Regions from separate parts of the Homo sapiens genome. Here regions 2, 3 and 4 are each linked to region 1. The links come from fine-mapping of genetic effects on gene expression. A gene starts in region 1. Each other region holds a variant in brackets. All regions are shown on one strand. Distances are from middle to middle. Region 1 holds the start of SH3PXD2B (SH3 and PX domains 2B). Region 2 overlaps SH3PXD2B (SH3 and PX domains 2B). Region 3 overlaps SH3PXD2B (SH3 and PX domains 2B). Region 4 overlaps SH3PXD2B (SH3 and PX domains 2B).

What was found. PIP is the estimated chance that this variant, and not a neighbour inherited with it, causes the effect.
Region 2: its variant is fine-mapped to the expression of SH3PXD2B in fibroblasts (GTEx, PIP 0.98).
Region 3: its variant is fine-mapped to the expression of SH3PXD2B in esophagus muscle (GTEx, PIP above 0.99). The same link has a PIP of 0.9 or more in gastroesophageal junction, lung, sigmoid colon, skeletal muscle and subcutaneous fat.
Region 4: its variant is fine-mapped to the expression of SH3PXD2B in whole blood (INTERVAL, PIP above 0.99).

The regions. Positions count from the first base shown.
Region 1 is chr5:172,449,975-172,457,930 of GRCh38, reverse strand. SH3PXD2B (SH3 and PX domains 2B) reads left to right here and starts at 3,406. Exons shown (of 13, transcript NM_001017995.3): 1 at 3,406-3,653. The coding sequence starts at 3,579. RefSeq lists an enhancer at 3,919-4,440.
Region 2 is chr5:172,409,168-172,417,123 of GRCh38, reverse strand. All of the region lies in intron 2 of SH3PXD2B (SH3 and PX domains 2B), which reads left to right. Among named protein-coding and RNA genes, the nearest start is that of SH3PXD2B, 41 kb to the left of the region's middle. RefSeq lists an enhancer at 3,922-4,423. The variant A/G (reference allele first, on the strand shown) is at 3,774.
Region 3 is chr5:172,422,210-172,430,165 of GRCh38, reverse strand. SH3PXD2B (SH3 and PX domains 2B) reads left to right here. Exons shown (of 13, transcript NM_001017995.3): 2 at 7,670-7,750. Among named protein-coding and RNA genes, the nearest start is that of SH3PXD2B, 28 kb to the left of the region's middle. The variant C/T (reference allele first, on the strand shown) is at 4,012.
Region 4 is chr5:172,380,409-172,388,364 of GRCh38, reverse strand. It overlaps SH3PXD2B (SH3 and PX domains 2B), which reads left to right. Exons shown (of 13, transcript NM_001017995.3): 5 at 6,238-6,329. Among named protein-coding and RNA genes, the nearest start is that of SH3PXD2B, 70 kb to the left of the region's middle. The variant AG/G (reference allele first, on the strand shown) is at 4,512.

The sequences.
Region 1 (7,956 bases):
TAGCCAGATGTGCTGGTGGGTGCCTATAGTCCCAGCTACCAGGGAGGCGGAGGCAGAGGATCCCTTGAGCCCAGGAGATCAAGGCTGCAGTAAGCCATGATCAAAATCACTGCACTCCAGCCTGGGTGACAGGATGAGACCCTGTCTCTTAAAAAACAAAACAAGGCCGGGGGCGGTGGCTCATGCCTGTAATCCCAGCACTTTGGGAGGTTGAGGGGGGTGGATCACCTGAGGTCAGGAGTTTGAGACCAGCCTGACCAATAGGGTGAAACCCCATCTCTACTAAAAATACAAAAATTAGCCAGGCATGGCGGGCGCCTATAGTCCCAGCTACTCGGGAGGCTGAGACAGGAGAACTGCTTGAACCCAGGAGGCAGGGGTTACAGTGAGCTGAGATTGCGTCACTGCACTCCAGCCTGGGAGACAGAGCAAGACTCTTTCTCAAACAAAACAAAACAAAACAAAACAAACAAACAAAACAGATAATAACAAGTGTTGGCAAGGATGTAGAGAAATTGGAACCTTTGTGCATTGCTGAGGGAATGCGAAATGCCACAGCCCCTGTGGAAGACAGTTTAGGGGCTCCTCAAAAAAAAATTAAACATAGAAGTATCACATGATCCAGCAATTCCATTTCTTGGTATATGCACAAAAGAATTGAAACCAGGGACTTGAACAGATATTTTTATACCAATGTTCACAGCAGCATTATTCAGAATAGCCAAAAGATGAAAACAACCCAAGTGACTGTTGACAGATGAATGGATAAAGAAAAAGTGCTATATACATATAATGGAATATTATTCAGCCATAAAAAGGAAATTCTGACACATGCTACAACATGGATGAGCTTTGAGGACATTATGCCGAGTGAAATAAGCCAGACACAAAAAGACAAACATTGTGTGTTTCCACTCATATGAAGTACCTAGCATAGTCAAACTCATAGAGATGGAAAGTAGAACAATGGTTGCCAAGGCCTGGAGGAGGTTGGGGGGCAGTGGGGGGGGACTCAGTGTTTAATAGGGACAGAGCTCCAGTTTAGGAAGATGAGAAAGTTCTGGAGAGGGATGGTGGTGACAGTTGCACAACAATGTGAGTGTACTTAATGCCACTCAACTGTATGCTTTAAACATGGTTGAAATGTTAAATTTTATGTTATGTATTTTTTACTACAATAAAAAAGTAAAACAAAGGAAAGATACGTAAAGATGCAGGGATAGCATCTTCTGCTACTGGTGGTTGTGGGGGGACCTTTGTCTTCCCCAGACAGAGGAGACGGACACAGCCAGCAGGACCCACCTCTGCCACCCATGGTGTGGCTGGGGGCAGGTCTCTCTGCCTCTCCGGAAAAACCCAGGAAGCTGGCTGATTCAGAGAGGGCCTCTAGCTTCTGCCTTCTTAGGAAGGCTTGGCTCCTAATAAGGCAATGCACGATGTGGCAGGGACGGAAAAGCAGACCTTCACTTCTTTGGACATTTCCAATGAGGCCTCAGGACCCTCTGGCTTGGGACTGTACTTCAGAAGAATGTGCCTTACAGGAATTACATGAGTGAGGGTCCTGGCACCGAACAGATGCCACCCTCAAGCTGGGTCCATGAAGACAGTTTAGTAAAGGGTCAATGTATACGGGTGTGGGCGGGGCTAAGGAAGCACCGAGGATGGCGTAGTACCCAGGGCTTGCAACAGCAAGACTGTCACTGTCCTGAGCAGAAAAGTGGCTTCAGGAACCCTGAGAGAGACCATGTGAGAAAGGGCACCTTTGGTAAAAACAATCGGGGAGGAGGGGCTTAGGGATTAAATACCCAGACCTCCCTCTCTCCTCTTGCCCTCAATCTCCTGCCAGGCCCTTCCACTGGCCAAGCCAAACAGGAAGACCAGGACAGAGAGCTGTCAGTGAAATCCACACAGGCCAGCCTCTGGGGCTGGAGCAGGATGGTAAAGTCTGGCAAGGAAGTCAGAGGAGCAAATGGAGGGGCGGATCCAAAGTGAATCAGCCCAAATCATCCACGTGGCCTGGCCGAGGCTGAGAGCCGTCCTACCCTGGATAAGCCCACCCTTTTCCAAAGGCTGATCCTGGACCGGGGTGGGAAGTAGCTCTGTCGTGGCATGGAGAAGAGTCGTACGGTTTGTTGAAAAGAGCCCCCACTTACTGGCTGTGAAAACACTGGCCAGGAGCCTAAACCTCCCATCCATGCATTATATATTCATTTATCCATTCATTCAGCCAACATCTCCTGAAAGTGACTCAGTGCCCAGCCAGTGCTAGGAGGCACTAGATGAAGAAACGAGGAGCTGCCCCAGCCACGGCAGCTTCAACGTGTGAGATCCACCTAGAGCCAGGCAGTGACGGGCTCCATCCACCGGCTCCCTGACTCTGGACCTTCACTGATGTAATTCCTGTAAGGCACATTCTTCTGAAGTACAGTTCCCAAGTCAGAGGGTCCTCAGGCCTCATTGGAAATGTCCAAATGTCTGGAGGCCGTCCTCTGTAAAAACACCTTTTCCTCCTAGAGTCTGCCTGAGGATGCAAAGACAGCATTTGTGAAAAGCAGGGGCCACGGGGCCCAGCGAGCAGTTAAGTGCTCCGCAACTGGAAATCGATGGCCTTGCTAACAAGCACCCAGCTGCCCCTCACACATAGTCACCACCCTTTTATCCCCTTTTGTTGCTTCCATGGCAATTACATTGCACGTATGCGCATTTGTTGCAGTTTTTCTCTCCCTCACTCCCCATGTCCCAGACTGAGGCTGGGGGAACCTGGTCACGGGTCTCTTGCTCCTCCTGAATCACCAGGGCTTGGGGTGGCTTTAGGAACGCCAGCACTCATACCATGGACTGCACTGCGGAATGGCTTCACATGCACTTAATCCCGGGCGCAGCACCGGCAGGCAGGCGGTACTACTGACACGTGCTACAACATGGATGAGCCTTGAGGACATTATGCCGAGTGAAATAAGCCAGACACAAAAAGACAAACATGGTGCTTGTACTACTAGGCTCATATTATAGACGAAGAGACCCAACCCAGAGAGGTTAAGCAACTTGCCGAGGGCACAGAGTGGAAAAGCGGCAAAGCCGGGATTCGAACCCGGGTGTCCGGCTCTCCAAACTGGCGGTGGATGGCGGCTGCCGGAGCGAGAGTGCTGGAATGAATCGATACGTCAATCAGTGAACGGGCGACGGGGTCAGTCCAGTCCCCTCCCCCGGCGCGGCGGCTCAGCACCGGGACAAAGGCCGGGCGGGGGCCGGACGTGGCCGGCGGGGTTCGCGCGCGGTGGGCGGGGGTCGGGGCCGGGCCCTTTAAGGGGGGCGGGCCGGCGGCGCGGGGGGCGGTGCGGGGGGCGGTGCGGGGGGCGGTGCGGGGGGCGGGCCGGGGGCGGGCGGCGGCGGCTGGGCCCGGCTGGAGTGCGCGCCGAGCGAAGGGCGGCGGCGGTGGCGGCGGCGGCTCGTGCTCGGCCCCGGCTGCGATTGCGCTCAGCTCCAGGTTCCCTGCCCGCGGCGGCGCGCCCCCAGCGCTCCCTGCACCCCGCGCCACCCGCACCCGCGCTCGGCCCGCTGCGGGCGGAGGAGCGGCCATGCCGCCGCGGCGCAGCATCGTGGAGGTGAAGGTGCTAGACGTGCAGAAGCGGCGGGTGCCCAACAAGCATTATGTGAGTGCGGCGCGGCCCCCACGCCCCCTTGAGCCCGCGCCCCGTCGGGGGCGACCGAGGGCCCCCGGCTTGGAAAACTTCTGCCTCCAGCGCTTCCCGTCCCCTCCTCCCCTGCTCTCCCCTCGGCTCTGCGGCGGCGCTGCCCGGGTCCCTCCCGACTCCTCCTCCCTCCCTCCCCTCCCCTCCCCGCTTTTGCCTCGTTCTCCCCCTCCATCCCTTCCTCCCGCCTCGCCCCCCTACTCGCCTCCCTGCGGCTCCTCTACCCCTTTCTGTCTTCTCCGTGTCCCCCCAACTCCCGTCCTGCTCATCTGTGGAAAAGTCTGGCTCCAGCCGGTGAGGGGTCTGAGACAGAAAGCGGGAGAGACAGAAGTGCCTGTTCTCAGGCCGCCCGCCTTGCCCCTCCTTGTCCAGAGGCGCGCAGACCCGCAGTCCCCAGCCACAGGTAGCCCCTCTAGGGTTCGCCGAATTTGACTCCGTTCTTTGGCAAGAGCCGGCCTGGGCGATGGAGGAGATCTCTGGGAATGGATCATTTGAGTGGCTACGCCTTTAAAGGGTTAAAAACATCCCCTGCCCCCTCTCTCCAGTAACTTCTGTTTTAAAATGTACGAAAGTTTTCTCCTGGCATCTCCCTCTGGAACATGGGAATCTTGTTTGGAGCTGGCAAGGACTTGAGAAAATGGGACAGTAGCGTCGTTTTGCAGATAGGAAGGCTGAGGCTCAGAGGTTGCAGGTCCTGGAACATAGAGCTGCATTCGGGCTTCCCTCCCTCCAGCAGGGGTGCCTGGGGCTGACGGTGACCTGCAGGTGGAAAGTGGCTTCCGCAGCAACCTAGGGGACACGTCTGCAGATTCAGGAGGCCCTGGGACCACCTCGCAGGTTCTAGGTGGAGATAAAGGGGATGTGGGGTGATGGGCCCACATGAGGCCTTGGGGAGGGCCTCATTACAGCAGGGAAGGGGGCTATAGTGTCTCTGGCGGTGAGAAGTGGGCAGTGGCGGAGCCTGGCTGCAGAGAAGTTAACCAGGAAGGGAAAAAGAGTAAGAGGGAGGGAAAAAATCCTAACAAAGAAGTATAGAACAATGAATAGAAAAGGGCGTTGGCTGGCTAAATTAAGCTCCTTGGCCTCCCTGGAAGTCGTCTTCAGATCTTTTTTTTTTAAGAACTAATTCTTACAAAGTAGATCTGCATGCCTTCCGTGAATAGCCTGTGAAATTCTGAAAGGAGATAGCCGGGAACCCACTCCGCGCTCTCCACAAGAAAGGGTGTGCTGTGTGAGTCTGTATTGTTATTGGCTGGGCAGCCAGTTATTCAGCCCTTAGCCAGGCGGTGGGAAGCTATTTCCTGGACCTGTGGCATCTTTATATAGAGTGAAGTTTCCCTTGATTCCAGAGCTGAGCTAAATTGTCTTTTTTTTTTCCTTCCTTTTTTTATTTTTTGTTAACTGTTTTCAAATGCTGCCAAATCTTAGTTTCTTGTTTGAGCCTGTTAGCGTGTAAGTGAGTTTGCCTCTTTGGCATGAAGACAGTTTTCACCAACATGGCAACTGGAGGAAGTCTGGAATTCTCCATGCCACCTCCCACCAGGTCTGTGAGCTGGCAAAAACGAGAATAGATACTGCCACCGAGGCCCGGCCATCATCGTCCACGCGCCCTCTTCTGGCCTCTCCTATCACGCCCATATCAGGCAGAGGGCCTTAAGCCCATTTGACAGATGAGGAAACCAGGGCTCAGCAAAGTGAGGTCCCACGCCTAAGGTCACAGTCAAGAGCCAAGCAGGGATGTAGATCCAGGCCCGCTGGACCCCAAAAGGACCACACCACTTCCCACATCCGGTACCCCTATAGTTTCTCTGAGCAAAGTCCTCTGAAAAACTGGGAAATCTCTCTTATCATTAGTGAAAACCTGGAAGCTTTTCATTCTCTGCTGTGTCAGCTCCATCCTTGCCAGTTTTTTGAAGGTTTTGCGCTTTGAGAACCGTCTTTTGAAGCTTTCAGCCACTTTTTGGGGGCCCCCTGAGACAAGTTTCTATGTTAAAACATAGATTGGGATTCAGATCTTGGCCTCCCAGGTTGTAGCTGTGTCACCTCAGCCTCAGTTTTTTCATCTGTGTAATGGGGATGGTGGTGTCCATTTCCTAGAGGTAGCAGCCGCATGACAGGCTGCCTTAGGGCATTCCTAAATGCCCTAAAGGCATAGCTCCCTGCCTGCCTGTCCTGAGGTATCTTGTCACTGATTGGGAACATGCCAAAGTCACATGGTAGGGGGATTCATCAAGAACTTGTTTTTCTGCATGTGGCTTTAGTCACTCATGTGATTCAAGAGGCCCTCTCCCTTCTAGCCCAGGCTTCTGGGTTCATCAGATGAGGAGGGGCAATGGGCTGAACTGAAGCCTGAGTCATCCACAGGAACAGAGAACATTTACTGCCTTGATGGCAGGGGGGCCAAACCCAATGGAAACAGATCCCTGTGGTGGGCGACCGCTGCTGTTCCCAAGCTCCACCCCAACCCCTCACACAATCTGGAAAGAGCGGGCATGAAGGCAGCTATTGGCAGGCCTGGACTTTGACTCCCATTTGGTATCCCTTTTTCTGAAGCCACCCTGGAGAGACAGCATCAGCTGGGGAGTTGAACTTTTCTGCTGTGTGACCTCGGACTGGTTGGTTTGCCTCTCTGAGCTCTAGCTTCTGTGTAAATACTGCTACATCCCTCAAGGGCAGAGTTTCTCAAACTCAACACTTTTGACATTTGGGGCTGGATCATTCTTTGTTTCAGGGCTGTCCTGTGGATTGCAGGATGTTTAGCAGCTTCCCTGGCTTCTACCCAGCTAGTTATCCCCCTTCCCAATTGTGACACCCAAAAGGCCTCCAGGCATTGATTGCTGCATGTCCTCTAGGGGGCAGCACCACACACATTCCCACCCCAGCCACTGCGCCATAGACTATAAAGTCAGTTTTTGAGAGTCCTCTTCACTACGCCCCCTAATTTCCCACTACCCCTCTCCCCATTTGCAGCCATCTCGGCCACTACCTGCTCATCACTCACTTGCCTGTGAGGGACAGGGTCACAGGTGCTGTAGATGTCATTGGAGAACTGCACCCGGAGTTCAGGGCTGCCCATCAGGGCTGGGCCACCTGCTCCCTCTGAAATGGTGCCTTCTCCATGATCAGAATGGCGTCCTCTCCAGCCCCAGCCTCAGTCACCCGCAGGCAGAGACATCATCCATGGGCCCAGGGGCAGAGCCACAGGCCAGGTCTGGAGAATGCAGGGCCAGAAGCTCCAGGTGCCTGTGAGATCCTGAGAGGCTGATGACAATGAACCATGATATTGTTTGGAGAGCCTTTCCCTGGAGCCACTGCCCTCTGTTGGAAGCAGGGAGATGAAGATTTGGGGAGCTCCTGCCTTTCTCTGCCAGCATCTTTCCTGCACTAGAGCCCGAGGGCTTGGGGATGAATGGAGAGGGGCTTTTGAGGGTGACATCCTGGGAGACCCTCCCCAGCTAGCTTGTCTTCAGCTTGGGGGGAGGAAGAAGAGCTCCAGGTAGGATTTGTGGGTTTTATTTGGATCACCCCATTTCCCGCACTGGAGAGGGATGTACAGAAGCATTAGTGTCTCGGCAGCAGGAGCCTGGAGATGCTGGCCTGCTCTGTCTCAAGATCTTTAAATGTTAAGAGGAGCAGGATGGTCGGAATATTTATGGCAGCAAGAATAACAGTGGTCAAAGTGTCCTCGGTAACCTGAGCGGGGCACTGGGTCCCTTTCAAATGGGTATATTTTCAATATAGTAATACAATATTCTGCACATATATAGATACATAGAATAAAATAGCTATCTATATCTATATACCTTCCAAGTCTTCACATCTCTATATTTTGCCAATTTGTTTCAAAACTTTTTTGTTTTTATTTTTAAGAAATAAAGCATCGCAGATGCAAACCCCCCGGACGCCCTCCCCGATGCTGCCCCTCCCCCATAAAACCACTATCCTGCATTTGATGTTGATCATTCCCATGCACTTATAAAAAATAGACTAATAGATAGGATTTTTTTTAACAGCTTTCTTGAGGTATAATTTACATACCATAAAATTCACCCATTGTAAGTGTGCAATTCACTTATTTTTAAAGTAAATTTGCAGAGCTATGCAACCGTCACCACAATGCAGTATTATAACATTTCCATCATCCCCAGAAAGATCCCCCACGCCCATTTGCCATCAATCCCCTTCCCACCACAGCCCATGGACCTTTTAATGTTTTTCCCTTTTTAACATTCCCTAAAATCTTGTATTGTCGTGAATGTTTTAA
Region 2 (7,956 bases), 41 kb after region 1:
AATATGCCCCCTCCAACGGGGGCAGGACATTCAGGCAGAGGAAACAGTCTGCAGAGAGGCCACTGAGGAGTTGGAGCATGACCCAGGCTCCCTTGTGGGAAAAGAGACTCACAGTCACCGAGTGTGATGGCTCACACCTGTAATCCCACCACTTTGAGAGGCTGAGGCAGACAGATCACTTAAGCCCAGAAATTCAAGACCAGTCTGGCCAACAAAACAAGATCCCATCTCTACAAAAAATTTAGAAATTAGCCAGGTGTGACGGTGCGCACCTGTAGCCCAGGCTACTTGGGAGGCTGAGGTGGGAGGATCCCTTGAGCCTAGCAGGTCGAGGCTGCAGTGAGCTGAGATTGTGCCACTGCACTCTAGCCTAGGCAACAGAGCAAGACCCTATATCAAAAAAAAAAAAAAAAAAAAAAAAAAAAAAGAGAGAGAGAGAGAGAGACTCACAGTCTCTATGAAAAGGTCCTTTTTAAAAAAAAAAAAAAAAAAAGTAGAGGCCGGGCGCAGTGGCTCACGCCTGTAATCCCAGCACTTTGGGAGGCCGAGGTGGGCGGATCACAAGGTCAGGAGTTCGATACCAGCCTGGCCAAGATAGTGAAACCCCGTCTCTACTAAAAATACAAAAACTAGCTGGGCGTGGTTGTGGGCACCTGTAATCCCAGCTACTCAGGAGGCTGAGGCAGGAGAATCATTTGAACCCGGGAGGCAGAGGTTACAGTAAGCCAAGATCGTGCACTGCACTCCAGCTTAGGCAACAAGAGCGAAACTCCGTCTCAAAAAAAAAAAAAAGTAGAGACAGGGTCTCACTTTGTCACTCAGGCTGGAGTGCAGTGGCGCCATCACAGCTCACTTGCAGCCCCAAACTCCTAGGTTCAAGTGATCCTCCCACCTTAGCCTCCCGAGTAGCTGAGACTACAGGTGTGTGCCACCACGCCTGACTAATTTTTTAAATTTTTGTAGAGACGGAGTCTTGCTTTGTTGCCCCGACTGGTCTCAAACTCCTGGACTCAAGTCACCCACCCACCTCGGCCTCCCAAAGTGCTGGGATTACAGGCCTGAGCCACCGCGCCCGGCTGGAAGTTCCCCTTTATGAAGATTCACCTTCCAACTTGGTTTCCTGACTTGCTTACCTTAGAAGGGCCTGATAGTGATGCCTGATGCTCTTACTTGACATCTGACCACACGTCTCATTCACCTGAGGGTGCAGGAAATGGGATAGAGCCCTGGGCTTGAAATAAGAATACCTGGTGTCGGGTCCTTCCCTCTGTCTTACCAGCTGTGCGGCCTTGGGATGGTCACCCAGCCTCTCTGATTCTCCCTTTCTGCCCTGGCTTGGGACTACTCTGGGGAGTCCATCAGTGTGGCAAAGGAAATTGGCATCCAGGCAGAGCACTGGGGATGACTGGAGTGCCCAGAGAGCTGAGGGTAGTGCCTAGCAGAAATGTGGCTGGGTTGAGCCACATAGTAACAATATCGGCAGTCACTAACTGGAATGTGCCAGATGCCCATCTTATATGCCATCTCATTCTGTCCTCACAGGCATGAGGTCAGTATTGTATCCATTTCACAGATGGGGAAACTGAAGCTCAGAAAGACAGAGTCACATGCCCAGAAAGCAGCATGGCTGGGATTCAAGCCCAGGTGTGGCTGGATCTGAAACTTGCACTCCTAACCTCCCTGCCTCCTTGGGCCCCGGGATTGCCTTTCAATCTGCCTATTGAAAGATAGATTTACCCACATAGAGTCCTGCCTATGGCTGCCCCTTTTTAAGGCCCATTTGGCTCCTCCCTCTAAGATACAGGCAGAGTCTATCCACAGAGGGCAGTTCTGACCAAAACATGAGCCCCTCTACACTGTACCGTGCAACCTTTGTCTTCTGAGTTCCCACTGGTTCATTGTGTCCCCCAGGCCAAGGGTCATGGTCATCACTGGAGCCAGGGCTTCCCTCACAGAAGGCGCAGTTAAACATTTGCTAACCTAGACCTCGAGCTGCCACAAGGGACCCAGATGGATCTCTGCTTTCCATAAGCTTCCAGTGTAGTGGGAATAGGCACATGTTCTTTCAGATAGAGAGAAATCCAGGTGTTCACAGAGGGACCTCCCTCCTAGCCAGGGAGCTCAGACAGGGCTCACTTGCTGGAGGAGGTGACATCTGAGCAGGGTCTTGACAATGAATAAGGAGTGGCCCCTCCACCGAATGGGGGAGGGCATTGCATGCAGAGGACACCTCATGTGCAAAGGTGCAGAGGTGCAATGGAGCAGGAGTCTTAGCTGGGCATCTTCCAGAATTCCAACATTGGCAGGGGGGCACAGAACCAGCTGAGTCACTCTGCCCGTGAAGGAGCCCTCGGGAGAAATGCCAGCCTCATCTGTAAGAAGGAACACTCCCTACGGGGAAGTTCATGCTGCAGAGATCCAGAGAAGCTTTTCTGGCTCCTCTCCTGCTCCGCACGCTGTGCCAGAGCGTTGCTGCTAGGCTCAGGGGCTTACGGCTCGAGCAGTTCTTGGACGCCTCAAATCACAGGTGGAGGCTGCATCTCCATCTATGCCTTTGTCTCTCCAGAGACTGTCCCAAGTCATGCAGCAAAAACCGCTTGTTTCCAGTTTCCATTGAGCTAGGACTGACCCATCCCCTTCTTTTTTTTTTTTTTTTTTTTTTTTTTTAAGATGGAGTCTCGCTCTGGAGTGCAGTGGCGCGATCTCGGCTCACGGCCACCTCCGCTTCCCGGGTTCAAACGATTCCCCCACCTCAGCCTCCGGAGTAGCTGGGATTACAGGCACGCGCTACCATGCCCGGCTAATTTTTGTATTTTTAGTAGAGATGGGGTTTTGCCGTGTTGGTCAGGCCAGTATTGAACTCCTGGCCTCAAGCAATCCACCCGCCTCAGCCTCCCAAAGTGCTGGGATTACAGGCGTGAGCCACTGCGCCCGGCCTTGACCTGTCTCCTTCTAAGACCCTGGTCCTTCCACCTCGGCCCTCTTGGGAGTTTAACAGCCCCAAGTGTACTTTTTAAGACTATCTGCCCATAAGCCCCCATGCTCCACTGCAGAGGCCAAAGGGAAGGGAGGGTTTTCTTCCAGCTTTTCTGAGGACAGGTCTAGGGGATGGCAGAACTGAAGAGTTTTCACTCCCTAGGCAGGCATTGCCTGGCCGGGAAGCCTTCCCAGCAAGATCCCAGCCAACATCTGGCCCAAGACTCCACCAACCATATTTATCCAAATACTGCCTTTACTCCATCCTCAGACACACTTTTTCTCCCAGACATTATCTTCTGGAATTGGAGTATGCCTCCAACGTGTTGTGCATACTTAAATGGAATAGTTTTCCCTTCCCACTAAAAGCTATTACCATATGGAAGGTGTGTCACTGGGAAAATACCGTAGTTGCCTTTTTCCACACAGTTAGCAATTCTTTATTTCTAAAATAGAAAGAGGCATGATTATCTTGGGCAGTTGCAGCTAAACTCAGGTCCAGGCCCTGTTGCTGCCACCTGGTATGTAATTTTTCCTTTCCCAGAGAGTGGCTGACCAAACCAGTTAACCACTTTTTCTCATTTGTTTTTTCATTCATTCATTCATTCATTTACTCATTTGTTCTTTGCACAAATATCTAACAGGTGCTTACCGTGTACCAGTGAGGAGGTAGTGGGGCAGAAGAGAGGGCCAACAGTAGTAAGGGGGTTGAACTGAGAAAATACAGGCCTGGACTTAGGGGGAGCAGTAAGTATGGAGAGAAGCGGACAGACCGGAGGTGGTGGCAGCCTCCGTGC[A/G]GCACGTCCATCAGGACACCAGACACATTGATATTTAGACCAGCTCGTGGAGGGGCCAGAATCCTCAAAGACAACAAACCACAGATGGTAGACTAGGCCCAGGGACACCGTTGTGTTCAGGGCCCTGAAAGCCCTGCCCCAGGACCTTGTGGCTTTCTGCCAGCCTGCAGCTGCGCATGATGGCCCCAGGCCTTTCTCCACTTCCTGCTCCGGCTCCGCTGGGACTTGGGGGTTTTGTGATATTGAGGGGGTAAACCCCTCCCAAGTCCAGCCTCAATGGCTGCTGCTAACGCAAACCACGTGTGGTGGCCAGCTTCCATGGCGTGTTCTTTGGACAGCGTGTCTCGCATTCCCTCTACCGCAAGCTGATGTCTTGAAAACTGCTGATGGAGTGTTCTCTCTTTCTTCTTGGAAGCCTGTGATGTGGCAACTTGATGTGACTCCTTCTCCCTTCCTACTCCCCAAATGACTCATCTTCCTCTTCAGTTTCCAGTCCTCCTCACCCTGAGCGCCACTTCTTTTGTTATCTGGGGGGAGCGCGGGTAGTGGGTTTTCTCATTACCAAGGATGACATGGGTTAGGCTTTGAGGAGCATGCCTCTGCTCCTGCTGCTGCAGACAGCCTGGGCCTGGTCCCTTGGAGAACCTACTTCAAGGCCTTTGGATGCCTAGTGTTACAGTTCTCTGCATAGATGCAATTGGTGGCCGTAAACCTGGACACACCAAGACCAGCTCGGCAAGGAAAGCTTGCAGGGCTCTAATCCCCCAGCATCTTATCCTGAGTCCTAGTCTTTGCAACTAGCAAACTCACAGATGGCCGTTGACATTGGACACAGTGATGAAGAAAACGAAATAAAATTGGATGTGGTTTAAATAGGAGGATATTGTGATAGTCCAGCCCTGCACTGTCCGGGATGGCAGCTGCTCGTCACATGAGGGTATTTAAATGTAAATTCAAGTCAATTAAAGAAAATTTTTAAATTGAGCTCCTGAGTTGCAGGAGCAGCATTTCACCTGCTCAATAGCTACCAGGAGGCTAGTGGCCACTGGATTGGACAGCAAGATGTAGAACACCTCCATGATGGCAGAAAGTGCCAGCAGACAGCCCTGCTACAGCCACGGGGCCACCCGGGCAGTCCTGAGGGGTTTTTTGCCAACCTTAAAACACAGCCTCACAATCAAATATTATTCAGCCTTAAAAAAGAAGGAAATTCTGCCACATGCTATAAAATGGATGGAGCTTGAGGACCTTATGCTAAGTGAAATATGCCAGTCCCAAAAGGGCAAGTACTGTGTCATCCACTTATTGGAGGTAGCTACAGCAGTCAGATTCATAGAGGCAGAAAGCAGAGTAGTGGTTGCCAGGGCCCAGGGGGAGGGAGAGGGGGGAGTCACAGTTTCAGTTTTGGATGATGAAGAGGTTCCAGAGATGGATGGTGGTGATGTTTACACAACATTGTGAATGTGCTGAATGCCACTGAACTGTACACCCAAGTGTGGTTGAAATGGTAAATCTTCTCTTGTGTATATTTAACACGATTAAAAAAAAAAAACCACACAGCCTTACAGACTACTAAAAGTTATCCCCAAATAACTTTCAAAATAACATATTCAATATGGGCAGAGTGTAAGGAGCGGGGATTTCTTGCTGAGCATCTGGTGTGCTCCCCAGAGTTTCCACATAGCACTCATTTACCCAGCCCCGCCGCGGAGCAGGCTGCGTCCCTCATCCTGCAGACGGCCAAACAGGCTCAGGGATGAAGTGTCTGGCCAAAGACACACAGCTGGCATGAGGAAGCATCAGGATTGAACCCCAGGGCTGTTGGGTCCCCAGCAGTCATGTCTGTGGTTAGACTATGCAGTATTTAAACCCAGATCTGCCACCTCCAACAAATAAAACAAAGGGAGGCCTTTCAGCTCCTTGGGCCATGCTGATCTGGGTAAAATCAAGTCAGGACAAAGGGCAAGAGAGCAGCTTCTTAAGACCAGGCAGTAGAGACCCCTCTGAGGACTGAAAAACACAGCAGTGGCAGGGACTCATTGGCTGACATGTACATTCAGGCAGGGACTCCAAAGGAACCCGGAGATTGGAAATAGTCATGTTAGGGTGGACAGATTACTGGTGCATTCTTTAAAAAAAAAAAAGTTCCCTTTAATGGTGTTTCATTGTCTTAACAAATAAAATTGAGAAGGGAAAAAGTAGATAGTGTTAGGCAAAAACCTATAAATCTCTAACATACTCCACAGCTGAGACTGATTAATGGCTCTGCTTTCGAAAAGAAAGCATGCTGTTCACATGTGCACAGAATATTAAACTTACCTCATCTCAGGCTGACTTTTGTGTTCACGTGACACTCTGAAGCTGCCTCAAAGAGTGGTCTTAGGCAAAAAGAATGGAATTTAGACAAAGATGCATGGACTGGCTGGACACACCACTTAGCTGTGTGACTTCAGGCAAGTTCACTGCCCTCTCTGCTTCTCAGTTACCTCATCTGTGACAAGGGGAATGTAACATTTATGTCACAGAGTTACTGTCAAGGTCACATGAAATCGTATATGAGAGGACATGTTCACTGTGAACTGTTATATACGTGTTAGTTGTGATTACTAATTATTATTTAGTATTAGTAATGTGAATATTATTCCTCAGAGTTACTTAGCAAACATCTCCTGAAGTTGCCTCCCAAAGCGTTTGCTCAGTTGCGTTCATTGGTTCAGCCAATTTTTTTTTAATCAGTAAACTTTAGTTTTTAGAGAAGTTTTAGGTTCTCAGAAAAATTGACTGGAAAGTACAGAGCATAGCCCCTTGTCCTCGCCACTCACAACCTCTCTTCATCGACATCAAGTTCAGCCCGTTTTTATTGAGCATCTACTATGTGCTGGCATTGAAGAGCTCTTGGATTCACAAAAAGAAGGCTGCCTTTTCCAGCAAGTCCCCACTGTGGCCTCACCTGTCTCTGAATGACAGTGGACCAAGCATTTCCACCTCACCAGGCAACAGAACAGGGGACAATGACTCAAAACCACAAATAAAACCACATGTTTAAAATACTGGCAAGGATGTAGAGAAAAGGGAACTCTTACACACAGTTGGTGGGAACGTAAACTAGTATAGCCACCATGGGAAACAATGTAGAGGTTCCTCAAAACACTGCAAAGAGAACTTCCATATGATTCAGCAATCCCACCACTAGGCATTTATCCAAAGGAAAGGAAATCAGTATATCTAAGAGATAATACATCCCATGTTGATTGCAGCTCTAGTCACAGCAGCCAAGGTGTGGAATCAGCCTAAGTACCCATCAGCAGATGAATGGATAAAGAAATTGTGGTATGGGCCGGGCACAGTGGCTCATGCCTGTAATCCCAGCACTTTGGGAGGCCGGGGCAGGTGGATCACCTGAGGTCAGGAGTTCAAGACTAGCCTGACCAAGATGGTGAAACCCCGTCTGTACTAAAAATACAAAAATTAGCCAGGTGTGGTGACCCATGCCTGTAATCTCAGCTACCGGGGAGGCTGAGGCAGGAGAATCGCTTGAACCCAGGAGGCGGAGGCTGCAGTGAGCCAAGATCGTGCCATTGCACTCCAGCCTGGGCAACAAGAGCGAAATTCTGTCTCAAAATAAAGAAAAGAAAAGAAAAAGAAAAAGAAAATGTGGTATGCATACACAATTGAATACTATTCAGCCATCAAAAATAAGGAAATCCTGTCATTTGCAGCAACATAGATGCCACTGGAGGACATTATGTTAAGTGAAATAAGCCAGGAACATAAAGTTCTCACTTACATGTGGAAGCTAAAAAAGTTGATCTCATAAAGTGAAAAGTAGCACAGAGGATAACTAGAGGCTGGGGAGGGTAGGGGGAAGTGGGGAGATAGGGAGAGATTTGTAAAAGGAAACAAAATCACAGCTAAATAGGAGGAATAAGTTCTAGTGTTTTGAGTGTTTTTGGTTTTGTTTTTGTTTTGAGACAGAGTTTTGCTCTTGTTGTCCAGGCTGTAGTGCAATGGCGCGGTCTCGGCTCGCTGCAACCTCCACCTCCCAGGTTCAAGCAATTCTCCTGCCTCAGTCTCCCTAGTAGCTGGGATTACAGGTGCCCGCCACCACGCCCAGCTAATTTTTTTGTATTTTTAGTGGAGAGGGGGTTTCACTGTTAGTCAGGCTGGTCTCGATCTCCTGACC
Region 3 (7,956 bases), 28 kb after region 1:
AACATTTACCATATCCAGGCACCAAGCGAAAGAATCTACATGCATGTTCTCATTTCATCCTCGCCCCAACTTTGCAGTTAGTAGTATTGCAGACCTCATTTTTTACAAATGAGGAAACTGAGTCATGGGGGTTAAGCCACTTTCCCAAGAGCACAAAGCTAGTTGAGAAGGAAGCAGGATATAAATCGAGGCCATTGTGACCCTAGAACTCCACAGCCTCGCAGAACAGTAGGATGATGTACTGGTCACTCTGACAGTTAGGAGGGTGAGCAGACATCTCCCTGCTGGCCCATGCTCCAGCTGCAGCCAAGCTGGGGCATGGCATGGCAGGATTAGAGGTGACCTAGGTTAGAGTCCCTGCTCTGCACGTCATAGCTGTGCAACTGTAGGCACTGTACTTCTGAGCCTCCGTCCTTTGCTGGGAAAACATGGGAAGTGTTAGCCTGGCCTGCTGGCTCGGGGATTTGGAAGAGACCAAGTTCAGCCATCTACCCACCTGCAAAAGGATCCTGGCTCAGCACACCCCACCCCAATTCCTCCCACCCTCCCTTCACCACCAGTTTGGCTTCTCGCTGACTTAGAGGAAGTGAGGAAACCCGGGACTTCTGTTCCTGGTGAAACTGGGTTTGCAATCAGGTTGGAGAGTCTGGACTTGGTTAGATCACACAGGCCCTGCTGCTGAGATTGTGTAAGAAGAGATTTAAAGGGTAGATGATTCCGGCTCAAATCCTGTCTGGGAACAGAAGAAAACCTCCGTGACTCTCTAACCCCAGTTGTGGTTTCTGTGCTTCCTTGTTCCTTAAGCAGTCCCAGCTGCTCCCCCAAAACATGTTGCTCCCAAGGGGCGGGGGTGTTTGCAGATTGTGGTGAAGCAGCACAGGGGACAGAGAGGAAAAGCAAGGGGGCAGGACCACCTCAGCAACATGGCCAGGGTCCCTTTCTACAGACCAAAGGCCTGCCAAGGAGAAGCACTCCTCTCTGTGAGGGCTTGGCCTCCTGGCATCTCATTTTCTTCCCCATTTATTCACGAAGCCTAGATTTTTCCACCCTGCCCAGTGCTGGGCATACAGCAGTCCATTAACAAGACAGGCCAGGTCCTTGCTCGCGTGAAACTTAGAACCCAGCAGGAAATCAGACACTTGAGCAATTTCAGTAAAGCGTTCATTGGCTTTGTGATGGGAAAGTGGGTGCTAAGGAGTCCTATAGCAGGGGCACCCAACCTCATACTGGTGGGCAGGGAGCGGTCACAGAGGGCTTTCTGGAGGCAGTAGCATCTGAGCTGTGCCCTGCTAGTTGACTTGTAGAACATTGCCCATTCCAGATCTGTCTGCTTCCTTATGATGTCATTTATCTTGTTCCTCTGCCTCCTATATTTGTTGTAAATTAGAACCTAGGTCAAGAGCTCGAGCTCAAGTTAAACATTGTTGGCAACAATACCAACAGCAGATTGTGTATACTTCACATTGCATCACCTGGAGGGCCACACAGTAACTGGATTGTCCCTCTATCCATGAGGCTAGGTTTGGTAACCTGGTTAAGTTGTAGAGTTACACATTTTTCCCCTGGCTGGGAAAGCAATCATGGGGTTATACTTTGATACCGTGTGAGTGTCCTGTTCAACAGCCTTTCACCTGGTGGTTCAGCACCCACTGAGGATCTTCCCAGAGTGGCTGTGGCATTTTGCTTCCCCACCAGCAATGCATGAGGGTTCCAGTTGCCGTGCATTTTCATCAGCACTTGTTATTGTCGCTATTTTTTAATCGTAGCCATTCCGACAGATGGGTAGTGGCATCTCCTCCTGGTTTCACTTTGCCTCGTTAGTGGCAGTGACCATATTTCATGTGCTTCCTTGCCCTCCATATGTCCTCTTGCATGAAGTGTCTCTTTAAGTTTTGTCCATCTTGTAATCTGGTTGGTTGTTTCCTTACAACCAAGACTTCAAGAAATGTATTCTGCATAGAAGTTGTTTCTCAGATGTGCAGCTCATGTTTTGAAGGCTGTGCCATGGAGAAAGTTTTAGTCATTTCCAGGGCACATGACATGCAGTATGTAAATCTCTGCAGGAAATCTGCTTTAAAAAATTTTTCTTTGGCCAGGTGCGGTGGCTCATGCCTGTAATCCCAGCACTTTGGGAGGCCGAGGTGGGTGGATCACGAGGTCAGGAGTTCAAGACCAGCCTGGCCAAGATAGTGAAACCCCGTCTCTACTAAAAATACAAAAAATTAGCCGAGCATGGTGGCAGGCGCCTGTAATCCCAGCTGCTTGGGAGGCTGAGGCAGAGAATTGCTTGAACCCGGGAGGCAGAGGTTGCGGTGAGCCGAGATCACCCCACTGCACTCCAGCCTGGGTGATAGGGCAAGACTCCATCTCAAAAAAAAAAAAAAAATCGTGGTAACACACACAACATAAAACTTAACATTTCAGCCATTTCTTAGCAACCATCACCACCATCCATCGCCAGAACTTTTTTCATCTCCCTAGACTGAAACTCTGCACCCATTAAACAACAACTCCCAGCCAGGCATGGTGGCTCACGGCTGTAATCCCAATACTTTGAGATACTGAGGTGGGAAGATCACTCGAGCCAGGAGTTCGATAACAGCCTAGGCAACAAAGCAAGACCCTGTCTCTACAAAAAATAATAATAATAAAATTAACCAGGCATAATGGCACATGCCTGTAGTCCCAGCTACTTCGGAGGCTGAGGTGGGAGGATTGCTTGAGTCCAGGAATTTGAAGTTGCAGTGAGCTATGATCACACCACCATACTCCACCCTGGGTGACAGAGCGAGACCTCATCTCAGAAGAATGAAAAATAACCACTCCCCATTCTACCCATTCTGGCAACCACCATCCTCCTTTCTATGTCTATAAATTTGACTACTCCAGGTACCTCCTGTAATCATACAGTATTTGTTCTATTGTGACCGGCTTATTTCACATAGCCTAATATCCTCAAGGTTCATTCATAGGGTAGCATGTGTCGGAATTTTCTCTTTTTAGAGCTGAATGATGTCCCATTTTATGTCTAAACCACATTTTCTTTATGCACGCATCCATCAATGGACACTTGGGTTGTTTCCATCTTTGGCCTCTTGTGAATACTGCCACTGTGAGGAAGTCTTTAATTCCTTGGCACCAAGCTACTAAGTATTACCTGGGTTGGGGATGTAAAAAAGGAAAGGTCTACTGTGTTAGGATTGCACTGGTTGCAAGTAACAGACACCAAATCAAACTGGTGTGAACAAGAAAAGGACTGTTTTGTCTTGCATCTGGGAAATGTCCCGGATTCAGGCTGGATCCAGGGGTTCAAATGTTGCCACGGGGTCTGAGCCCTCCTCTCTCCCTCTGGCTCTGCTTTCTTCTGTGTGACAGGCGCTTTCCATGGGAAATTCCTGGTGTAGGTTCTCCCAGCAGCCACTGAGTGGGCAAAATGGTCTGTCCCCTGAGACTGCCATCAAAAGTCCTGGAATTGGTTCTCATCCGTCTTGTGCCCATCCCTGAGCCATCATTCATCAGCAGGGCTGTGGTTGGCTGGGCCTGGGAGGGAGACATGCCCACTCCCCTCATGAAGACCAGAGGAAGGATTCCCCGTGGGAAGTCAGGATTCTGTTACCAAAAGGAGGGGAGGGGAAGGTACTAGACAAGCAGGAACATGGGATGACCACTGTGAGGGAAGCTGAACGTTGCACTCCTAGTGCGTGCCAGGTGTTGGCCCCATCTCCGTTAGCTATTGTGGCTTACCCCTCAAGGGAGATTATTGTCCTTGTTTTAGAGAGAAGGGTGGGTGGCCAGAGAGGTGAATGCCTTGTGAGTTTCTCTAGCAGCAGAGCTGGCTCTGTGACCCAGGGTGTGTGCTCTCTCACCAGCCCCCAAACCCAGGACGGGGACAAAGCCCTACGCTAGGGCAGCTCTCGTTAAAAAATTAGGTCTCTGCCTAAAAATGCAGACATCACGTTGTGTTCAGGGGTTGATTCCAATAAACCAATTAGGCTTGCTGCAGAGTCCTTG[C/T]ACTGTATGTTCAGAACTTTAAAAATTGTAAACAAGAGATCAAGGATGAATTGTGTAAGCAGAATTTTTTTTTCCATCTATGGGAGTGTGCTTTTTGTTGGTTTTAAGAAAAAAATCCATTCTTTGACAATTTTTCCTTGTTTTTTAATCCCTGTTGGCAGTGTCCTTGACAGTCATTCAAACCTAGCTTAAGCATCCCCAGTGGTGGGCACCTTTGGTACAGTATTTTCCCTTTCTGACCCTCAGTTTACCCATCTGGCAGGTGCAGCCCTTCAATGAGCTGCATTCTTTGGTCCGCTCCAGCTCTAACTTCCTGTCAGTGGTGCAAAAGATGCCTTACTGGTGTCCCTGCCCCTCTTCAAGCCGTTTCCACACAGCAGCTGGAGGGATACCTATGGATATTTTTAAACGTGTACCCTGGATCCTGTCGCACGCCTCCCCCACCCCTTCAAGCTCTTCAGTAGAATGAAATCCAGACGCTTCTCTGTGGCCTGCAAGCCCCTCGTCATCAGCTGCTGCCTCCTCCCCCGCTCAGCCCCTTCCTCCCGCAGCACTGTCAGCTGTCATACTCTCCTGTTCCTCACACAGGCGAGCATTTTCCTGCTGCCACATCTTCGTTCCCACTTTTCTTTTTCCCTGTACGCCCTTTCCTCAGCTCTCGACCAGCTCCTCACCCTTCAGATCTCAGTTCAAAGGTTGCCTCCTCAGATAGGCTTCCCTTCCAAGGCCCCCTTATCCAAGTAGCCAGCCCCTCCACCTACCACCCTCATGCAGACTTCGGGGTCCTGCCCAGCATGTCGGCAGGTTTGCTGGTTTATTGCCCATCTCCACTTAACAAGGGCAGGGTCTGGGTCTGCCTTGCTCCCCATAGTATCTCAACCCCTAGCAGAGGGCCTGGCATGCAGTCGGTGCTTAATAGATGTTGAAGACTGAATGAGTGAATGAATGGAAACCATTCAAAATCTCCATGCTGGAGTCTCGGTGAAGCAGGGTGGAAAGCTAAGAAACAGATTTGAAGTCTTCTTGTTAAGTAAAACATCAGGACTGTTGAGCGTTTTTTCACATCACAAAGTCGCCTTTCTGAGATGATGACTGACTCTTACCTCCTAAAGGATGCCGTGGCCCCTTCCCTGGCTCCATGAGTTACCTAGGAACGGGGAGCGCAAACAAGGAAGAAGGGTGGGCTGGATGCCCAAATCCTTGGTGTCAAAGGAGCCTGTTTTTGTGAGCAGGGATGGGGTAGGCATTGGGTGGTCTGAGAGCAAGGTGCTGAGGTTTCATGAACTTTTTCTGTCTTCCTGGCAAGGTGCTCAGAGCTTTTCCTCTTGTGCTAATCACAACTCTGTATGCTTGATGACCCCATTTTACCAGATAAGAAAGCTGAGGCTCCAGGAGTTAGGAAATTGTGTGAGTCCAGAGCTTCTTGACTCTAGAGCCCAAGCTCCCCCATTTCTGCCATGTTTTGAAATATAATCTGTGTTGGGTTTGATGAGGCCATGCCAGGTGAACTCCTTAGCGTGGCATTCAAGGTCACCTCCAACCTTGTCCTGATTTATCCTAACATTTTTCGTCTCTTCTCACCTGAAGAACCTTCTCCTATAAGTCCATGATATTCACACTGGTGTCTGGCCCCAGCCCCTGAAGTTGTTCTATCTTTTTCTGTTTGGAATGTGAATGTTCTCCTAAGAACTCATTTGAAAAGAGACTCTGGCTAAAACCACTGTGGAAACCGCTGCCAGGCACAGTGTGGCTTCACCCTGAGCTGGTCTTTGTTCTACCCTCATTCCCCTCTACCCACAGCCACTGCCTTCCTCTCCTGCTGTCTAAATCCTACATGACCATCAGTTACACTGTGGTGGCTCCAGGCTTCAGAGATCTCTCTCCTGCCCACTTCCGGTATCAACCTGGACTGGATTACGTGGGTCAGAAACCCAACTTGAACTGGCCACAAAAGTTATTCAAGACAGTGGATGTGGCCCAAGACATAATTATTGGCCCAGGAAACTGGACAGTCCAGGAATAAATTTAGCTTCAGGCAGAGCTGGATGTAAGCTTAGACTGTGTCATCGGGATGGTGGCTCCTTTCTCAGGCAGGCTCCCCCCCACCCCCAGTGAGGATGGGTAGCCCCCAGCAGCTCCACATCTTGACAGCCTGTCAACCTCAGGAGAAGAGCTTGGCTTTCTCCAGAGTTGGAGCAAAAGTCCCAGGGCGGGCCGGGCGCGGTGGCTCAAGCATGTAATCCCAACACTTTGGGAGGCCGACATAGGTGGATCACTTGAGGTCAAGAGTTCGAGACCAGCCTGAGCAACATGACAAAACCCCGTCTCTACTAAAAATACAAAAATTAGCCGGGCACGGTAGCGCTCGCCTGTAATCCTAGCTACTCGGGAGGCTAAAGCACGAGAATCTCTTGAACCCGGGAGGCAGTGAGCCGAGATTGTGTCACTGCACTCCAGCCTGGGTGACAGAGCTAGACTCCCTCTCCAAAAAGAAACCAAACCAAAAAAGTCCCAGGACAGACTCCTACTGGCTGTGATTGGCCCAGCTCAAGTCACATGTTCTCCCTTCAACCAATCACCATGAACAGAGAATGTGCGCCCCCCCCCCCAACCCCGTATCCAAGTGGGTGAGCTGAAGGTAGGGAAGGAGGATTCCAGGAGTCAGTCATCTTCACTTATGTATGCATTGTCTCTCCTTCTAACCGTCACCTCATGGAGGACAGGGACACTGCCTGTGAAACCCCAGGGCTTCTAACAGCACTGAGCGCCTTGTGTTTCTATGACATTTCTTTGTTTCCAAACAGCTTTCACTTGTGCATATATTTTAATTGTCACAACTACCCTATAGCAACAGATAGTTTATGCAGTCCAGGAATGGGTCACAGGTATGCTGATCCCTTAGCCCTTAGGTGTCTACCTGGTGTGTCCGGGGCCACCAAAGGCCCCAGCCAGGCACCTCTGACCTCTAATAGTCACCTCAGTTTGCCCGGGCTTGTTATCAATGTATTGTTTTCTGTGCGTGCCGTGACGTGTGACACAGGTTGGAAGCACAGCCCACTGGTTTATAAAATGGTCCTTCATCCTTAATTTCATCAGCACCTCACATCTATCCTGGGAGGCAGAGGAGGCAGAGGAGGCAGAGGAAGCAGGTGCTGTTAGCCCCATTCACAGGAGAAACTGGGACTCGGGGAAAAAATAACTTGGCCTAGGTCCTCGTCGGTGGAGACAGCATGATGGGCTGGCCTGTGGAAGATATAAGATGGCCAAGAGCTGCACGTCTCCGTGACTTCTCCTGATGAAAGTCAAGGTTTTAGGAATGACTGGCAAGATAGCCAGCCTGTCTCTCACTGAACTGAGCGGGTAGTGAGGAATCCTGGCAATGCCGAAAACAGCAGCTTCTCCTGAGCTGATGTGGTGCCACTGCATCCCCATACTTGATGTCATTCATCCTTTGCACAACTCTGTTGGGGGTTATTACACTCATTTTATTGAGGAGGGAGATGAGTCTTACAGCAAGCAACTTGTCCAGCCAGTCATTGGCAGAGCTAAGGCTGAAACCCACGTCTTTCTGACTCTGAGTCTTGTGCTCCCCCTGGGTCCCAGAGATTGGGAGACCACCTTCTGGTGTTAACACCCATCTCCTCTGTTGCTCCCGCAGGTCTACATCATCCGGGTCACGTGGTCCAGCGGCTCCACCGAGGCCATTTACCGGCGCTACAGCAAGTTTTTTGACCTCCAGGTAAGGATTTGAGGTCTCTGGTGAGCTGCAGGATCGGAAAGAGTTTAATTGGACTTACATTCCACTACAGCTTTAGAGTCCAGAATTTTTTTAATTTCCCAGACTTAAAAATGACATCCATGGCTGGGCGTGGTGGCTCACACCTGTAATCCCAGCACTTTGGGAGGCGGAGGTGGGTGGATCACTCGAGGTTAGAAGTTTGAGAC
Region 4 (7,956 bases), 70 kb after region 1:
CATGACATTTGGGTATCTGTTACTGACATTGTTGTGAACCAACTGAAGCCAATTTGATCTATCATAACTAGCTTTATTTTAGTAGAAAATGAAGGTCTCTAATAGAGATAGATGAGAGCTATAGATGATACCCCAAATTTAGCTACCAAGTTTATATTACAATGGAAGAAACTTTCTGCTCTACCAGACCTATTGTAAAGTTACAGTAGTTAACATAGTGCAGTATTAGCACACGGATAGACAGACTCTTGAAACAAATAGAAAACCCAGAAACAGATCCATGTGTATTTGGATGGGCACTGTGATACTGACAAAGGCAGCCTTGCAGATCATTCCTCAATAAATGGGTATCCACATGGGAAAAAAACAAAAAAGATAACTTATCCCTGCCTCACACCACACATGAAATCATTTCCAAGAAAATTAAAGACATAAATGTAAGAGGCAATATTACAAAATGTTTTAGGAGATAACATTAGGAAAATATATTTATAATCTCTAGGTATAGGATTTCTAAAGATACAAAAAGGATACCAAGCACAAAAAGATTGGTTTATTTGAATACATTAAATTTAAGAACTTCTGTTCATCAAAAGACACAATGAAAATATGACTTAGCTGAATCCTGTCACACATACAAGTATTTATTATCAAGCCACCTCATAAATAGCCACTCAAGTTTTTCTGGAAGCTCCTTGAAATCCCAGTTGTCTGTCTGACATCTCTTTGCATGAATGATTCCTCAAGGCAGATGCAACCACATTCTAGAGGCAGGATCAGCTCATCCTAACCGTGGTCTGACAGTAAAATCCTCAAGAAGAGGCTGAACCCTAAATCCTAGACCCAGGGCCCCGTTCTGAAGGGTGTACGGTACTGGGCTCACCAGGTTCTGTTTGTGCAAGGGCCAGAGTGTCTGAGAATATTTCTAGGAACATTTCACCAGTAGAAAACAAAAATTCTAACAACAGTTAAGCTAATGAATAAAGGCTGTGGCATTGATCCACAATGAAGACAGCTAAAGCCCTGAAGCAGCCTTTTCTGAAGTGTGGACTTCTGATTAGAGTCTTTCACTTGCACCAGTGTTCATTCTCAATGAGGGGACTTCAGGTAGTAACTAAGCATCATACGGTGTAGCTTAAATGGAACACACATGCAAACATACACACTTGTGAGTGTGTGTGCCCATGCTGTAGTATTTTAAACTATGGGCAACATAACAGTAGTATTTACCAGGCTCCAGTCACTTGAGACTTCCCTTCTGGAATTCTGTCATACACCACCCACCTATATTATTATTCATATTTTTCTTCAACTCACTTTTTGAACTTCTTCAGATTATGAGACTGGCTTGCTGCCTACTGTGCTGAGGGCTTCCTGACTTTTTGAACTTCTGAAAACAATATGTCTTCGAGAAAACTTTATATCACAACCATAACATAAAACTGGTATCAGCTCACGCCTGTAATCCCAACACTTTGGAAGGCCGAGGCAGGTGGATCGCTTGAGCCCAGCAGTTTGAGACCGGCCTGGGCAACGTGGTGAAACCCTGTTTCTACTAAAAAGACAAAAATTAGCCAGGCGTGGTGGTGCACGCCTGTAACCCCAGCTACTCAGGAGGCTGAGGTGGGAGGATCTCGAGCCCAGGAGGTGGAGACTGCAGTGAGCTGAGATCCCACCCCGTGCTACAGCCTGGGCCACAGAGCCAGACCCTGTCTCAAAAACAAGCAAACAAACAAAACAAAACAAATGGGTATCATGTGCCTGCCATAAAAATAAAAACAATAAAACAACAACAACAACAGAAAACGTTTTTAAATCTGGCTAACTGCTGTTACCTGCCTACCGGAGGCTCTGCAGAGCCCGTCCTGCTCTCAGGAAGCAAGTTAGACAAGTGTTACTTCTCTGGGGCATTCTTTTTTAAATTAAAGAGGGTTGAAAGAGAATTGAGAAAACATGAACCTTCTCCCTAGCCAAGATATTGTCATTTAACATAATCATCTGGCTGCCTCTGAAATCGCCTTTGGAAACACTATATTCTTGTACCTGGGACAGTATAGAGAGCCAACAGGGTTATCCAGTGTCCATCAAGCAGCTAATATATGATGGAAACCATACAACCACTTCCTCACTTATTCTATAGCACAGCCCTCCAAGATGGGTGTTCTTTATTTCCGCTTTACAGATGAGTAGACTGAGGCTCAGAGAGGCAGTGAGACTTGGCCAGAATCTCACAGCCAGGAAGTGACGAGGCCAGAGTCAGGAGCTGGTTCTCTCTGACCTTTATTGTTACCCTCTGCAAGCAGGACTTGCTCTCCTCTCTCGTGCCTGCATCAGCCACATCTGTCCAAAGCGCCAGGATCCGTTCCAGAACAGGACTGAGTTTGCTGGAGCTGTGGTTCTTTGTCACTACTGACAGGACTTAGGACTATCCTGGAGTCTTTCAGAAGCAGAATGGTTTCTCCAGCCCCGGGTCATTTTTTACTGGTAGCCAAGTCCATCCCAAATGAAATGGGCCAACATCAAAGCATTCAGCCCTGCCTTTTATTAGTAACTTGACTTCTTTTATGGTTTAGGGGTTTGGTTTGGCTTTTACTTCCTAGGCATAGCTCAAAACCAGAAGAGAACTTGGCATCATCAGGAGGTTTCCATGGGCCTCGTTGTCCCTTCCCCTTCTGGTCCATTTGGGGCCTCTGCCCATCCTGGGAGGCCCCCTCCAGGCAGAGACAGTGACCACCTCCAGGGGCCATTCCCCACACCCACCCAAGTCTCCTCTAGCAGAGACACATGGCCAGCTCCGGGCTGTTGCCTCGTGTTATTTAGGGTCTCCCCAGCACTGTCTAGGCACGTAGGGAAGGTGAAGGAGGAACAGCTGCCACCCTGCCGCCTTTTGTGGATTTAAGGTAGAGGTTTGCAGTCAGCCTTTCCTGGACTCTCTAGACCAAGCCACCTCAACAGAGCCTCCATTTCCCCATCTCTTAAATGGGCCAGCCTTCCCAGGGTTACATAAAGTGACACAGATGAACACGTTTCAGGAGCCTCCCAGTGCTAAGCCAAGGTCGAGGAGTGCTGTTATTGTAGTCTTGGGGGGAAGCCACAAGATATTTGCACACAAAGCAGCCAGGACACACCACAGTCCAGCATATAATCAGCTCCTTCATTATGTGGCTCCAACTGCAAGGGCTGCAGGATTTCAGAGGAAAAAGAGGCCCATGGGGAGGGGGGAGCAGACAGCAGCTCATCCAGGCCAGGAGAATGACCACTCACTGCTTGGAACCAGAAAAAGAAGGGGGACCAGAAACAGGAGGTGAGGGAGGGAAGGGCCTGCTCCTGTCTCTGGGACTCCCTGATTCAACTCTGGAAACAGTCCTTAAGGATTTGCTGCAGAGCAGGAGCTACTTAAAGGCTAATTTTAAAAATCGGTGAGCCCTTTAGTCACCCCTCAGAAGGGTGGAAGGGTGGACAGTGACCAGGGAAGGTGCCCTACTAGACCATCCACGTCCCTCATGATGTGTTTATCCATTTTGAGTCTGGAGCAGATTGCAGCTCGGGGACTTAAAGTTAGAGCCTGATTCAAAGTAATGTAGGGTTGGCAACCCAAGTGTCCATCGACAGGTGAATGATAAGCAAAATGCGGTGTATCCAGACAATGGAATATTACTCAGCCTTTAAAAGGAAGGAAGTGTTTACGCCTGCTGCAAGCATGAACCTTGAATGGATGAGCATGCTAAATGACATCAGCCAGACTCAAAAAGACAAACACTGTATGATTCCACTTATATGAGCTACCTGGAATCATCAATCCCTAGAGACAGAAGTAGAATGGTGGTTGCTGGGGGAGGGTGGAAGGGTAGTTGTTGTTTAATGGGTACAGAGTTTCAGTTTTGCAAGATGAATAGAGTTCTGTGGATGGATGGCGGTGCTGGTAGCACAGCAGTGTGAATGCATTAAATACTTAATGCACCGTACGGTACACTTGAAAATGGGTAAGATGGTAAGCTTTTTACTGTGTGTATTTTACCACAATTTAATTTTTTTAATGGGAGAAATAATTGTGTAGGGTCAACATATCCCCAAAGCCCTGTAAAAGGTGCCACACTGGAGGCCTCCATTCATCTCTCCGTTGGTCCACGAGAGCCCAGTACTGCTGCAGCGTCGGCACATCACTTTGGGAGTTGGGTGGTGAGCTATTAAGGGCTGGTTATATAGAAAATGCAAGACACAGGCCGGGCGCAGTGGCTCACGCCTGTAATCCCAGCACTTTGGGAGCCGAGGTGGGTGGATCACGAGGTCAGGAGATCGAGACTATCCTGGCCAACATGGTGAAACCCCATCTCTACTAAAATATAAAAAATTAGCCGGGTGGGGTGGCGTGCGCCTGTAATCCCAGCTACTAGGGAGGCTGAGGCTGGGGAATCACTTGAACCCGGGAGGCAGAGGTTGCAGTGTGCTAAGATAGCACCACAGCACTCCAGCCTGGTGACAGAGCAAGACTCTGTCTCAAAAAAAAAAAA[AG/G]AAAGAAAGAAAGGAAATGCAAGACACATCTCTTCTATCCCCAGACCCCAGAGACTCAGGCTCAGCATGGTGAGAAGGCTCATGAGAGGCACCAGGGAACTGAGGCCCTCTAGGAGAGAACAGAGTCCAGCCTCATGCAGAGCACGCACTGCTTGGGCAGCTTGGCTGGCAGAATCACCTGTGCAATTCATGCATATGCACACGTGTTCTCTGCACAGGTGTGTGCAACAAAATGTATGCGTGAACCACCTGAACCACCCTCAGATCTGCATCCTCATTACCCTGGTCCAGGGCCCGGGCCAAAGGAGGCTTAAGTAAATATTTGTTAAACTGAGCTGTTTATTCATGATGGCCATGTCTGAGTTTCGGATCCTTCAACGAGCAGAGTGTACCCTGCACTTCTGTTGTATTTGGCACAGAAACTAGTGCAGTGCTGAGCACAAAGAAAATTTTTGCTCATTGAATCATTGAATGAATACCTGTTAGTAGATAAACCAGCTTTGTGGAGGTTAGTAAATAAACCAGCATTGTGGAGGGCTACACAGCCAGTGAGTCACTGGGGCAGATTAATGTGGAATTTGGCCAGTGGAAGATCTGTTTCAACCCCTCATCAACTTGGAGACTTTGAACCTCTATCCAAATCATAAAACAGTCCCTTCACTTTAATGCTTCAGATTCGTGAGTTAAGACATATATGTGAGCATGTTGGAAATAACCTAAAGATTCACCAGTAGACGAGTTGAATAAAGTATGACACAGCTGTACAAAATCCAGTATCCAGTATAGATGATGTTATAGAAGAATAATGAAATGAGCCAGGTGCAGTGGCTCAAACACCTGTAATCCCAGCACTTTGGGAGGCTGAAGTGGGTGGATCACTTGAGGCCGGGAGTTCGAGACCAGCCTGGCCAACATGCCGAAACCCTGTCTCTACTAAAAATACAAAAAAAAAAAAAATTAGCCAGGCATGGTAGCACATGCCTATAATCCCAGCTACTCAGGAGACTAGGGCACAAAAATCGCTTGAACCCAGGAGGCAGAGGTTGTGGTGAGCCGAGGCTGCACCACTGCACTCCAGCCTGAGTGACAGAGCAAGATCCTGTCTCAACATAAATAAATAAGAATAATGAAATGGCATGAAGTTGACAATTTATAGCTAAGTGAAAGCATAGGTTTACTAAATAGCATGTACAGTATGGTCTGATTTTGCCTAAATATGGACATATTACTTGAACAAATATGCCTATAATATATGCGTGTATATCATACATTGTGTGTGTGTGTGTGTGTGTGTGTTGTTCTCCAAACCAGCAGCATCACCAGGAAACTTTTTTAGAAATGCACATCCTCAGCCCCCTCCGCAGAACTACTGGATCAGAAACTCGGGTGGGGCTCCACGATCTGTGTTTTAATAAGCCCTCCAAGTGATTCTGGTGCCTTCCCGAGTCTGAGAGCCACTGGTGGTATATGGCATTCCTAACACCCGTCTCCTTCCTTTGCTTTTTGGGTTTGCTTTTGTGTTTGTATGTGTGTGTGTTTGAGACAGTCTCGCTCTGTCACCCAGTCTGGAGTGCAGTGGCGCGATCTCAGCTCACTGCAACCTCCGCCTCCCAGGTTCAAACAATTATCTTGCCTCAGCCTCCCGAGTAGCTGGGATTATAGGCGCGTGCCACCATGCTCAGCCCCCTCTCCTCCTTTGCACTCACCTGCGTCTCTCTTCTCCAGGCCCTCATCCAGCTGCCCCCCTACATCTCTCAGTGTGATGAGGTGCTGCAGTTCTTTGAGACAAGACCTGAGGACCTGAATCCCCCCAAAGAGTAAGTTTGTTTGTGGGCTTCCCCAGATGGAGCCCCACAGCCCTCCCTCCTGCCAGTCCAGCCACCCCCAAGTAAAGCAAAGTGCAGCCAAAAGTGGGTTTCGTCGGCTGAGCCCCTGTGAGACCGCACTTCACTTAGCCTTCAGAGTTGCTGTAAGTGGGTAGCGATCGTCCGTTTGACAGGTGAAGGAAACTGGCTGAGTGCCACTCCTGTCATCCCATCATACTCTCCACCTGCCCACAGCACTTATCGAGGTGTGTCGGAACTGAGCAGGCTGAGCCCGTGAGGCAGGGGCTGAGCCGTAGATTCATCTAGCTTCTGTCCACAGAGGTGGAGGTGGGTGTGCTCGGGAACTGCCAGGGATGTGAATGCGGGAGCAACCCAAACCAACGAAGACCCCACTGCCGGTGAGCAACGGGGCCGGGATTTCATCCTGACCAGCCAGGCTCCGAAGCTCTCCAAAATGCCCACCACAGCCCTGCCTCCCTGTCACTTCTCCCTGCAGTGGACAGGCCACTTGCCCAGACGCCTGTCGCTACACAGCCAGCAGCCCCAGCCACACAGTGCACACCACATAAAACTCTAGCACCGCCTGCTTACCCGCACTTACGCACCAACACTCTGGCCGGCCCGGGTGCTTTGGGGAAAGCAGGAAGGGATCTGGCTAACGGAGAAATAGCAGTGGGGAAAAGAGATCAGCCCAAGGTGCTGGGAGTGTCCTGGGGTCACAGGAGCAAGAGCGGGCAGAGTTTGGGGTCCGTCTGGGCTCATTCGAGAAGGGCTGAAAAGTACCAGCCAGGCTCTGTTCCAGAAGTAGATGCTGCTGCTCTTGGCGCTGCGTTCGCTGGATGCCCCAGGCAGCAGCCGTAACCAAGGCTGAGTTTGCTGAGCAGCCAGCGTGGCGGGCAGTGTGCCAAGCACTGTATGTGTATCAAGAGAGAAAGACACATGCTCCCTTTTGGAAATGATCTGCTGGAATCACAAAAATTTTTTAAATAGACTTGTGAGGAGAAAGCATGAAAGTGTTTTAACAAGTGAAGTCAGGCCATTTATATTTATACACACACACAGCGACCTCCAAAATCGAGTTCACAGACTTCCGAGTACACCACTCAGGACTGATGGTTTGCTAGCACACAGATGAGTAGACCTAAGTTTCTGCAATAAATATATCCCAATATGCACCATTTCCTGTGACGAGCACGGAGCGAGTAAACACAGCTTCTCATAGTGAGCGCACAGAAGTGCGTGGTTTTGGAGTGAAGGGAGACTGTAAGAGGCAACAGTAAACCTTTGAATCGGATGTCACAAGGGAATGCCTTACCAACACGGGAGCCAAGACACAGTTTCATAAATTTGAAAATAATCATAAAGATACAGAATAATATAAATCTGATAATTTGGGGTGTTTCGCTCGTGCTGGCTAATGTTTTTGTTCTTAGTGTCTTTGGCGTTGGTGTCTGGTAAGCATTTCCCAATTTGTGTCGCCATCATGAAATATGGGGAAATAGTCTCAAAGCACCTTTGTCTCCAGTCCTCCTGGGCTTACAGGATTGAACTGCCATTCAGGCTCATAGCCTCTGGCTTCACTTATAATTTCTACACAAGGTAAATCAAAGGATACAGA